2 separate regions of the Homo sapiens genome follow, and region 1 is linked to region 2. Evidence: fine-mapped expression QTL. Tissue or cell type: whole blood. Region 2 holds a variant in brackets; the other region holds the start of a gene. All regions are shown on one strand. Distances are between the middles of the regions.

Region 1 (2,500 bases), 69 kb after region 2:
GGTTGACAAAGGCGATGAAACTGAACTGAGACTTAAAAAAAAGATTACCCACCTGGTTGTGCACAAGCCTGCTTATGTCCCAATCTCCAGTCTAGGGTCTGATGCTCCTTGCTGCAGTAATATGCTTTGTGGCATCTGGAGCACGTTTTGGGGCCTAAACAGCCACAAACCCTGCAGAGATGAGCACCAGACTTAAGCTGGAGACACACTGATTCTCCTGTTTCTGGGGGAGGATTCTCAGAAGGTGGCTCATATGAGTAAAAATCGTTTTTCCTGGGTAGTTGATTCCTAAAAACTAAAAAAGAATACAGAGAAAAGTTTTATCTTCAAACAAAACAGCAATTCACATATTTTATCCTCTGCACGTAAAACTGAAAATAACAACAACAAAAAAGAAATGAAAGTTTTTGCTTTCAGGAATAAGCTTTTAAAATCCAGAAACTAGATTTCGTCCGGTACACGCAACTGAGTTGCCTCCTAGAGGTGGTTTGAGTTAATCAAATTAATAAGACTGATCGTTAAGAACGACTGCCAAAAATACGAAAAAGCTACTGGGATCCATCTTTCCAAGACAATTTCTATTATCTGAATTAACACCATACCTGGTACCCACTGATTAAAAGCTGGGGGTTACCAATGCGCGTGGGCACAGTTAGAAGCTTATGTAGCAAAAATGAGCACATCCTGGAAGGGCCCGGGAGAAGGTGCTCCTGGGGCAGCGCGGAGAGGGAGCTCTGAGGCTGGGGCGGCAGCGGTGCTTGCCGCCGTCCCCCTGGTCGCTCCCGGAATTAACGCCGCGCACGCGTCGGAGGCATGGCCCCGTCCCGACCCCGTTTGGCGGCTCACCTCGCAGGCCGGCACAGCACGGCTGCTCGCGGCAGCAGAAGAGGAAGATGCAGCGGTGGAAGGCGTCCGGGCGGCCAGGCAGCGGCGCATACACCTGCAGCAGGAAGGAGAGCGGGCGGCCGCACAGCTCGCAGGCCAGGGCCTGGGGCCCCGGCAGCCCGGCCGCGCCCAGCCATGCCGGCCGCCCGCCCACCTTGCTGGGGAACTGCTCGCTGCGCAGTCGCCACGCCGGCGCCGACTCGGCGAAGCCCAGCTCCACAGGCCTGGCCCCGGCGGCAGCCATGCGGGGCGCGGGCTGGCGTGGGGCGCAGCCCACAGCTGGGTCGGAAGGCGGAAATCGGGCGCCGGGCCGGAAGGCAAGAGGCGGGCACCTTTCCGGAGGACAGGAGGCGGAAACGCGTCTGACGGGAGCGGTTGCAGGACCAATGCGAGGGAACGGGGCAGAGGAAACCTCTCGGCATCAGCCCCGCCCCTGGCGCCTCTGCCTCCGAGCCGCTTTCCTGGTGCCTCCGGGTGCTCTGGGATGGTTCTGGTCTTTGGGAGAGTGGCAGCTGGTGACGGCGCTCCGCTCACCTCTGCACATGTCTTGCTGTGGGCCTGCGGGTGGCCGCCAGGGAGGCAGAGCCCTCCCGCAAACCTTCCCTGCTGGTGTCCACCTCAGGGTGTGGGAAACCTGTGCGCTGGCCGAGTGCTAACCAAGAGTAGGCAGTGAAAGACAAATGAAGGTTGAACAGGTAAAGTGAGGACCCTACAGCGGAAACCAAGAATCCTGTGTGCCTGAGAGTAATGAAGAAGCCTCTGCAGAAGAGTCTTTTCTGTCAGTCTTAAGGTCTCTGTTTTAATGTTAGTGCTGGCTTGCTGTACCTGAATTCCAAGGGAGGAGTGTATAATGAGGCATGGCCAACCCCCACTTCCCATCATTGCCTGAACTAGTTTTTCAGGTTAACTTCAGAATGCCCTTGGGCAAGCAGAGGGTCCATCAGTCGGTTGGAGGGTTTAGAATTTTACTGTTGGTTTGCAAAGGTCTGAAAGAAACATGTACCACCTGTTCTCTTTAAGGAGTTCTACTTAGGAGGTTTCATTTACATAACAAGACCGTGGTTGTCAGCCAGGTCTCCACCCGCATAACCTGTTATGCCACAATCCAAACCCCCATTCTGTAACCTCAAGATGGTATATAAGTTTCTGAACCCCATTTGGGGCTTCAGCAAAATCACTCTGGTTCTCCCCCATGTGCATGTTAATAAATTTGTATGCCCTTTCTCCAATTAATGTGCCTTTTGTCAGTTGACTTTTCAGTGAACCTTCAGAGGACAAAAAGGAAGCTTTCCCTTGGCTACTACAGTGGCTTTAATGGAAGTAAAGTCATCAACAACATTTATTTTTGACAAAATCACAGTTTAGTTGGCAGTATATTTGTTTGTTTTTGTTTTATTTGAGATGGAGTCTCGCTCTGTCGCCCAGGCTGGAGAGCAATGGTGCGATCTCGGCTCACTGCAACCTCCGCCTCCCGAGTTCAAGCATTCTCCTGCCTCAGCCTCCCGAGCAGCTGGGTAGCAGTATATTTGTAATGGTACATAAAATAATGTCTGTTTTTAAATAAACATTTACATTGTAAACCAAAAGTTAACTCTCCATCAATTTTTTTTTTTCT
Region 2 (2,760 bases):
GTTGATGGGAGAGTGAAACAACAAGGACTGCTAACACTGGCAGATATATTAATTATTATATGACAACGATTTTAGACCAACCATCATAAAAACACTTCAGGCTGGGCATGGTGGCTCACAGCTGTAATCCCAGTACTTTGGGAGGCCAAGGCGGGCAGATCACTTGAGGTCAGGAGTTCAAGACCAGCCTGGCCAACATGGTGAAACCCCATCTCTACTAAAAATACAAAAATTAGCCAGGCATAGTGGCACGTGCTACTCAGGAGGCTGAGACGAGAATCACTTGAACCCAGGAGGTGGAGATTGCAGTGAGCCGAGATCACGACACTGCACTCCAGCCTGGGTGACTGGGCAAGACTCTGTCTCAAAAAAATAAATACATAAAATAAAATAAAAATAAATAAAAAAACTTCAACAAGCAATACAAAAACACTTGAAATATATTAGAAAAATAGAAAGTTCCAGCAAATAATTAGAGGATATTAAGAATAACTGAATGGAAATTTTAGAACTGAGACATGCAATAACAACAAAGGTTTTTAAAACTCAGTAGATGGACTCAACAGCAGAATGGAGGGGACAGAGGAAAGAATTGGTGAACAGGGAATTAAAACAGGGAAATAAAATAAAATAAAAAAAGAAATTACCTAATCTGAACTGCAGAAAGAAATAAACAGAGCCTTGGAGACCTACAGGATCACAATCAAAGGTCTAACATTTATGTTATTGGAGTCCCAGAGAGAGGAGAAAGAGGGCATGACTTAAAAAGTAGTCAAACAAATAGTGGATGAATATTTTCTAAATCTGGCAAAAGACATAAATCTACAGATTCAAAATGTTGAGTGAACTCCAAATAGGATAAACCCAAAGAAATCCATGCCAAAGCATGCTATAACTAAACTTTTGAAAACTAAAGACAAAGAAAAAATATTGAAAGCAATGAGAGAAATAACATCTACCTATAAGGGAAAACAATTTGAATGATACGGAATTTCTCATCAGAAACCAGGGAGCCAGAAGGAAGTAACAACATTTTTCAAGTGCTCAAACAAAAGAATTGTCAACCCAGGATTATTTATTCAGAGAAAATATAAAGGTGAATGAAGGGGACTTGAAGATATTTTCAGATGAAAGAACAGTGTAAGAGAATTTGTTGCCAGCCGACCTCCTCTAAAATAATGGCTAAGGGAAGTTTTCTAAACAGATAAGAACTAATAAAAGAAAGAATCTTGGATCATGTTAACCTAAAGGAAAAAAACTGAGGCAAAATTAATATAAGTAGAGAGTTTATCTGGGCTGAAGCTGAGGACTGAAGCCCAGGAGACTCATGCAAGTTGCCTTGATCCATGCTCCAATTAACAGTAACTACAAGTGGTTTGTAAAAGCAAAAAAGAAGTGCAGTCCTTAAGTTGTTTACCAATAATTTACTTTGCTTTATTAAAATAACAAAAGTGATTGGTTGGCTATACATTTTTCTTTGTATCACAAATTCCATGAACATGAAGATTATGGATGAGAGTTACATTGTGCAACTTGTGGTAACATTTTAGGTAATTTATCAGCTAGCCTGGAAACTAGAAGAAAGGGAAAAAAAATCAAAATGCCTTTAAAAACTTGCCCCCAGGTATGGCTGCAGAGGACATGATTAGAGTCTCATGTTTATGTCTCTCTGC[G/A]TCTGATACATTTTCCATATCAGGCCAGGCATGGTGTTTCATGCCTATAATCCTAGCACTTTCGGAGGCTGAGGTGAGAGGGTCACTTGAGAATGGGAGTTCAAGACCGCCCTGGGCAACACAGTAAGATCAAGATCCTGTCTCCACGAAAGAAAGAAAAAAAGAAAAGAAGGAAAGATTGATTTAAAAATTACTTGACATGACGGTGCATGTCTGTAGTCCTGGTTACGCAGGAGGCTGGGGCAGGAGGACCACTTGAGCCCATGAGTTCAAGGCTGTAATAAGTTATGATCATGCCACTGTACTCCACTACAGTGTGGGTGACAGAGTAAGGCCCTGTCTCTCTCAAAAAAAAAATTCATATCTCACATTCCTCAGACGCTCTGAGACATGTTCTCAATCATTAGGAAAAAAGAAAGAACAAGGAAAATAGTAAAAATATAGATTAAAAAATACATTTTCCTTCTCCTCTTGAATATTCTAAATTATGTTTGATAGTTGAAGCAAAAATTATAACCCTAACTGATGTGGTTGTAAATACACATGGAGGAAATATTTCAGACAATTACATTAAACATATTATTAATATCAAATATTTATGATTATTAAATTATAAATGAGGAGGGTGAGGTGACATAAAGGAGGTCACCTTTTTTCCTACTTTTCACGGGAGCTGGTAAAATGCTAACACAGATAGACCGTGTTTTGTGTAATAAGTAGAAAAGCGATACCAAGAGATAAACTAAACAGTGCAATACATAAATCAAAGTGGAATTGTAAAACAAAAATATTCAAGAAATATATAGGAAGGTAGGGATAACAGAAAAACAAAACAGAGGGAAATAGCAGAAAATTTAAAAAAAGATGGCAACTTCAGACCTAATGTATCAACAATTTCATTAAATGTAAGTGCTCTAAATAAACCAGTTAAAAGGAAGAGATTGGCAGAGTGAATTAAAGCATGACCCAAATATACACTGTTTATAAGAAACTCACTTCAAATACAATGATACAGGGAGATTGAAAGTAAAAGGATGCTTGTGCTTGCCATTGGTGGACCTGTAGGCAGACCTGCCCAGTCCAGGCC

What was found. PIP is the estimated chance that this variant, and not a neighbour inherited with it, causes the effect.
Region 1: it holds the start of PDCD2, and the variant in region 2 is fine-mapped to the expression of PDCD2 in whole blood (TOPMed, PIP above 0.99). The same link has a PIP of 0.9 or more in blood mononuclear cells.

What each region holds. Positions count from the first base shown.
Region 1 is chr6:170,583,453-170,585,952 of GRCh38, forward strand. PDCD2 (programmed cell death 2) reads right to left here and starts at 1,185. Exons shown (of 6, transcript NM_002598.4): 1 at 847-1,185; 2 at 53-295. The coding sequence starts at 1,129. RefSeq lists a silencer at 915-1,154.
Region 2 is chr6:170,514,284-170,517,043 of GRCh38, forward strand. No RefSeq gene overlaps it. Among named protein-coding and RNA genes, the nearest start is that of PSMB1, 38 kb to the right of the region's middle. The variant G/A (reference allele first, on the strand shown) is at 1,674.